Linked DNA regions of Homo sapiens. The protein of the gene in region 1 purifies or fractionates together with the protein of each later gene. This does not show direct contact. Each region holds a gene or a part of one and is shown in the gene's direction. Other genes may lie near its edges.

The links. The genes of interacting proteins can lie anywhere in the genome.
Region 2: the proteins of TOMM70 (region 1) and WDR37 purify together in Homo sapiens (co-immunoprecipitation; one large-scale study listed by IntAct). This does not show direct contact.

Annotation. Positions count from the first base shown.
Region 1 is NC_000003.12:100,394,569-100,398,223, reverse strand, and holds part of TOMM70 (mitochondrial import receptor subunit TOM70), read left to right. Parts: intron 1-3,655. UniProt on the Homo sapiens protein: Acts as a receptor of the preprotein translocase complex of the outer mitochondrial membrane (TOM complex). Recognizes and mediates the translocation of mitochondrial preproteins from the cytosol into the mitochondria in a chaperone dependent manner.
Region 2 is NC_000010.11:1,059,304-1,062,958, forward strand, and holds part of WDR37 (WD repeat-containing protein 37), read left to right. Parts: intron 1-3,655. UniProt on the Homo sapiens protein: Required for normal ER Ca2+ handling in lymphocytes. Together with PACS1, it plays an essential role in stabilizing peripheral lymphocyte populations.

The DNA of each region.
Region 1 (3,655 bases):
TTAGTAGAGACAAGGTTTTGCCTGGTTGGCCAGGCTGGTCTCAAACCCCTGACCTCAGGTGATCCACCCACCTCGGCCTCCCAAAGTGCTAGGAATTACAGGCACGAGCCACCTCACCGGCTGAAACTAGATTTTAACATTTCATTGTGGTTTCAGCCACCCCACCTCATCCCAGGGGATCTGTACCATTGGTATTTGATAAAACCTAGCCATCTCCTTTTCACATTTTAGATGTCCTAATTCCTCTTTTCCACGTTGTCTGGATCAACACTGATGATTTTTTAATTTCATGATATTTCAGAGTTTTTTAGTTTTACAAATAACTTTTTTTTTTTGATACGGAGTCTCACTCTGTCACCCAGGCTGGAGTGCAATGGCGAGGTCTCGGCTCACTGCAACCTCTGCCTCCTGGGCTCAAGAGATTGTCCTGCCTCAGCCTCCCAAGTAGCTGGGATTACAGGCACGCACCACCACGCCTGGCTAATTTTTGTATTTTTAGTAGAGACAGGGTTTCACCATGTTCGCCAGGCTGGTCTCAAACTCCTGACCTCGTGATTCACCCGCCTTGGCCTCCCAAAGTGCTGGGATTACAGGCATGAGCCACTGCCCCTGACCACAAATAACTTTTTATTCACCTGACTGCTGTTAAAAATTAGAATTTAAGATTGGACTCTTTGTGTAACTTAAACTGCTTTAAAATGATTTATTTTTGGCCCCAAATAAAATAAGGCAAAACATTTGCACTTACCATTGTCCATCTTGTGGAATATGTAGGCCTACACCTGTAATCTTTGAATTACTAGATTGTTCTTTGGTAAAGCAACAATAGGAAGGTCTTTGTGATTTTTTTAAACTGGAAATTTATATCTTAACTGTTGGTGACCAGTAAATATTGAAAGACTACTTTTGTCTTCTTTTAATAGTCTGGTCCTTAGAGTTATTATTAGACTATCTAAATGTAATTAATTGATCAGTAATTGTAATTTCTTATCTGTGGTTGGATAAACTGCTGTACATTTGAATAGCACCTCTAAATTGGCATCCTCGGTGGATTTCGCAACCAGAAGCATTTGCTTTCACTGATGGAAACCTGGCAGAATCCTGATGCCCTAACTGTCCTTTCTCCACCTGAGCAATAGCTACAGTTTTTAAAGGAATGAATAAATAGACAAATATTGTCTGTTTAGGGTTTGATATCAGAAAATAGAATGGAAAATCTGTATTTTTGTCTTTTGGCTTATGTTTACCTTAATGTAAAATGATCTGATAGAATTACTGGACTTCTGTCTATTGGGTTGGAGATTTTCCTTTACAATTAGTGTGCACAATTACCTTTTTTCTGGGATAGCAAAAACTTGTAAAGGAAGTGCAAAGGATATTCATAGTTGTTTTAATTAATGGGAATATTGGGGTATCACTGAAGAAAAGCATTTAGTCACAGTTGATAGTGTCTAAGACTGAGGTGCTTAAAGTATTAGATCATATTCCATTTTGAACTATTATAAAATCTACCATGATGTGCCATTTTGCTTCAGTAATTTTTTTAAACTTGAAGAATTAAAAAAAAATTTTAAATTGCAAGGCTTTTTAGAAGATCATATTATCCATAGTGCTTCTCAATCTGTGGGCTTGAGTCATCACGAGGGACCACCACACATATATTCCAAGCATGGTATCCTGGCTGTACCAATGTCCCAGATACTTCTTTTTCAAACATCCTGTGATTTTCTAGAAAAATGCACTTATTTAAAAGCATTATTGACTTCATTGTAACTTTTTTGTCCAATTGTTATTTAATCTGATGATAAAAAATGCATCATTCTTGTGTTCATATTTAGCATTAAATATGTTTAGCCCATGAAATGAGTTTAGCCCACATGAAATGGTTAGGAACCAATAATCTAAGCCAGCCTACTACAGTAGGAAAGGGAAGATGTACCTACACATTTTAGTAAAGGGTCGAGGACTGCATAAACTGTTGTTATTGGTCATCTTGTTTGAAATGAAGTCATTCTCTCCCCCAAATGATCTGTTTTGAGTCATTTTTAAAAAATCAATCAGGGACACCAATGACATTCCCTCTAAGCTTAGTTAACACTTTTCAATCTTAATCCTTGGCAGTATTTCATATTGTGCTCTAAATGTCATAACTTTTCCTGCTGCTTCTGAGGTACTCCATTTTCCTGATTTAAAAAAAAAAAAAAAAAAACCTGATACCAGCCTCATGGATTCTTAGTCTCCTTATCACAATACAGAGGTCATTTCATCTTTTCTGAAACTTCTCTCTACCTAAGCACACCACTATGTGATTTTATAACACCCTGGACTTTTCCATTTTATAGCACTTACCACGTGGTACTAGAATTGCTTATTGCTGTTTCCTGCTATGCTCTTGAATCTGTGAAGGCTGAGACTGGCTCTATCTTGTTCACCATTGTATTGCCAGAACCTAATACAGGTGCATAGCAAGTGTTGAATGAATGAAGTTTCATTTTTTGACTAATAATTAAGGGTTCCTTTGACATCCCTAAGTTTATATTTTATATATGTGTGTGTGTATGTATATATAAATTTCACAAGTGGTATATTTTTCAAATTTTCCAGCTCTTCATTTTTGTTCTACCAGTTAATGCTGGATTCCGTGGAAATCTTTTTTCCTTTCTCTTTTTTTTTTTTTTTTTGAGTTGGAGTCGCGCTCTGTCACCCAGGCTGGAGTGCAGTGGTGCAATCTCTGCTCACCGCAACATCCGCCTCCTGGGTTCAAGTGATTCTCCTCCCTCAGCCTCCTGAGTAGCTCGCCACCATGCCTGGTGAATTTTTTGTTTGTTTGTTTTGGGTTTTTTTGTTTGTTTTTTGAGATGGAGTCTCACTCTGTTGCCCAGGCTGGAGTGTAGTGGCGCAATCTCGGCTTACTGCAACCTCTGCCTCCCGGGTTCAACCGATTCTCCTGCCTCAGCCTCCCGAGTAGCTGGGATTACAGGCGAGTGCCACCACACCCTGCTAATTTTTTGTATTTTTAGTAGAGACAGAGTTTCACCATGTTAGCCAGGATGGTCTCAATCTCCTGACCTCATGCTCTGCCTGCCTCGGCCTCCCAAAGTGCTAGGATTACAGGCGTGAGCCACCGCGCCTGGCCGTAAATCTTAAACCTCATTTGGGCATACTTTTTGTAAATCAGTTGATTATGCATGACCTACAATCATAATCCTGCAGAAGCAGTCATTATAAAAGTATATTCTTCCTAGGTAAAGAGTTATTATGATTTAGTAGGTGGGGTTGGTTGTCATTTTTAAAATTTCCAGACGTGAAATGGGAAAGGACTTTTTTATTATCTTAGGTTTTATTCCTTATTAGGTTTGAATCCTTATTATCTTAGGTATTATTATCCTAGGTTTGATTCATATGAAAGTAACAATTGGTTGGCCAGGTACAGTGGCTCACACCTGTAATCCCAGCGCTTTGGGAAGCTGAGGCAGGTGGATCACCTGAGGGCAGGAGTTCAAGACTGGCCTGGCCAACATGGTGAAACCCCATCTCTACAAAAATACAAAAATTAGCCGGGCATGATGGTGGGTTTCTGTAATCCCAGCTACTCAGGAGACTGAGGGGAGAGGATCACTTGAACCCGGGAGGTGGAGGTTGCAATGAGCTGAGA
Region 2 (3,655 bases), on another chromosome or scaffold:
AGGCAGAAGTTGCGGTTAGCCGAGATCACGCCACTGCCCTCCAGCCTGGGGAGACAGAGCGAGATTCTGTGTCAAAAAGAAAAGAATTTGTCGTATTGCTGTTTCAAGCTACTTTGGTTATGTTATCTGCCTTCCTCAAATTATACACACTTAGGAGAATGATAATTTCTATAGCTACAAATTAATTAATATTGGAAATATTGAAAAGAATCTGGCCAGGCGCAGTGGCTCATGCCTGTAATCCCAGCACTTTGGGAGGCTGGGTCAGGTGAATCATGAGGTCAGGAGTTCAAGACCAGCCTGGCCAGGATGGTGAAACCCCGTATCTACTGAAAATACAAAAAATTAGCCAGGCGTGGTGGTGGGTGCTTGTAACCCCAACTACTCAGGAGGCTGAGGCAGAGAATTGGTTGAACCCGGGAGGTGGAGGTTGCAGTGGGTCGAGATCGCGCCACTGCACTCCAACCTGGGCGACAGAGCGAGACTCTGTCTCAAAAAATATATATATAAAAGAATCTTTTGAGAAAGAGCAGAAAGCTAAGTGTTCATTGATGCTGTTTAATATTACAGCATTTCTGTCACGCAGGCTGGAGTGCAGCGGCATGATCTCAGCTCACCACTGCCTCCACCTCCCAGGGTGGAGCAATTCTCGTGCCTCAGCCTCCAGGGTAGATGGGAGGCGTGTACCATCACGCCCAGCTGATTTTTGTATTTTAGTAGAGACGGGACTTCACCATGTTGGCCAGGCTGGTCTTAAACTCCTGACCTCAGGTGATCCGCCTGCCTGGGCCTCCCAAAAGGCTGGGATTACGGGCATGAGCCATCATGCCTGGCCCAATATTACAGCATTTCTAAAGATGAGGAATTCAGCTTGCTAACACAGTGTGTTTATGGGTTTCATTAATTAGTCGAATGTTTGGCCAGTGCCTGCTGTGTGTAGAGCACTGTGCTGCATCACAGCTGTGTGCCTGTTGTTCTGACTGCTTACAAGCAGTGGGGTGTATTACGTACACGGCAACATATACTAAGGGCAGGTGAACTGGACAGACTAAATGAGTCAGGAGTTCAGAAGGAGCGTTTATTCTGTTAAATCCATGGTAGGATAAAGAGATTGAATTTTTAGAGGGGACTATTTATAGTTTCTTGAAAATAATGTTTTATTGAAAACCAGAAGGACATTTAATCTCCATAAGCCTTCTTTGTAATATGGTAATCTGTCCAATAATATTGGGTAAATGTGAATATTTTGAAGGAAAATAATTACGTTTTGGAATCTCAGGTTTCTCTTTGCTTGTATTTAGGTAAAACAGTGCATAGAGGTTAAAGAAGGTTATATTTGGAGTGAAGAAGTTTGTTTTTTCTCTTTACAGTTCTATAATCAGTTTATTAGTGTTTAGTCTGTTAAATACAATCGGGTGCCACATAACAAATGATGTTTTGGTCAACAACAGACCTCATGTAAGATGGTGGTCCCATAAGATTGTAATACTCTATTTTTACTGTACCTTTTCTATGTGTAGATATGTTTAGGTACACAAATAGATACCATTGTGTTACAGTTGTCTGCAGTATTCAGTACAGTAACATGCTGTGCAGGGTTGTAGGCTAGGAGCAGCAGGCTGGGCCATCTAGCCTAGGTGTGGAGTAGGCTGTGCACCTAGCTTTGTGTAAGTGTACTCTGCGATGTTCCCACAGTGACGAAATCACGTAACGATGCATCTCTCAGAACCTGTCCCCATCCTTAAGTGATGTATGACTGTGTTGAAAGGCTCTTAATTGGATTTGGGAACTCTGTCTCATAGGGATGTTATGAGGATTAGTGACTCTTTGTATTTATTGATCCATTTGAGCCTTACAGCAATTCTTTGTAGTAGCTCTTCAGCCTCTGGTAGATCTGCCAGTCCACCAACTTTCTTCCAGTATCTCTCCATTAATTCTTTCTGTTTTCACTTCCCTTCCTGTCTATTTTAGATTCCATGGTATACCATTTCAGTAGTTTTACAAACACCTGCCACTTCCTTGTCCCTCTTCCCATGATACCAACCTGAAAACCCCCTAAACTGGTGATTAAACATTTAAATAAGATTTATGCTACGCCGGTTGAGCATCCTAATCCAAAAATTCAAAATCCATAACATGACACAAGTGGAAATTTCCACACCTTACCTTGTGACAGACAGGTTGTAGTCAAAATGTGGGTGCGCAACATAGTTTATTCAGGATCCCCTAGGGCAAAATAAAATTACCTTCAGGAGGCCTGCTGTGGTGGCTCAGGCCAGTAATCCCAGCATTTTGGGAGGCCGAGCTGGGCAGACCACTTGAGGCCAGGAGTTCGAAACCACCTTGCCAACATGGTGAAACCCCGTCTCTCTTAAAAATACAAAAATTAGCTGGGCATGGTGTTGGGTGCCTGTAATTCCAGCTACTTGGGAGGCTGAGGCAGGAGAATTGCTGGAACCTGGGAGATGGAGGTTGCAGTGAACCGAGGTTAACACCACTGCACTCCAGCCTGGGCAACAGTGGAGACGTCATCTCAAAAAAAAAAAAAAATTACCTTCAGGCTACGTGCATGAGGTATACATGAAACATAAATGAACTTTGAGTTTAGCCTTGGGTCCCATCCCTAGGATATCTTACTATGTATATGCGGATATTCCAAAATCTGAAAGCATCTGAATTCTGAAACACTTCTGGTCTTGAGCTTTTTTTTTTTTGGGGGGGCCAAGGACTGAGTTTCCATGGAGGATGTGGTGTGAAAGGAAGGAAGTGGTGATAGGACCAATACAGACACTGGGAAAAAATGTGGAGGGTGTGAATACAGAGATGATAAGATTACTCCAGTATGAAAAAATCTGTATTTGGTGCCAAGTTCCAGGGAGGTGATTGTAGGAAATGCATACATTTGGTTGTAGTTGATCAGCAGAAAAAGATTGCCGGCGGTATTGACTATTTTGTGAAGTGGCGAAGAAAGCAAGCTAAACCAAAGAGAACACCATGCAACTTACGGAGAGGCTGGAATAGCCAGTGAGATAAAATCAGTGATCCAAAACTTATAATTTTGATGAGAAAGGAAAGGTGATATTGTAATCTCTGCATTTTTGGTAACGAACTTGTAGAATGTCTGGAATGCATCAGAATGTTTCTACAGATGAAGTTCTTAAGAGAGGGAAGGGAAACCCTTTGCTGGTTTTATTTGCTTCATTTAACTGAAGATAGAGTCTCCCTTTTTCTCTGAGGCCATATCAGGACAGCTTTCACAGGCTTTTGATGTGGTTTCTTTTTTTCCTTTACAAAACATACTCCATAAACTACAAAGTAACTGTTTTATGTTGTAAAGCAAGACTTACTTCTCCTTTAAAAATAGGCCTACACATATGCAATTTGAGAATAAAAGATGATTCTTGGCTTTCTGCTTGCGGAAAGATGGAGACTTATTTTTCCTTATTCCTCCCATGAAGTACATCTAAAAACACTGGACATATATAAAACAAATGTAAGAGTGGGCCGGGTGCAGTGGCTCACGCCTGTAATCCAAGCACTTTGGGAGGCTGAGGCGGGCAGATCACAAGGTCACAAGTTAGAGACCACTCTGGTCAATATGGTGAAACCTTGTCTCCGCTAAAAATACAATAATTAGCCAGATGTGCTGTTGGGC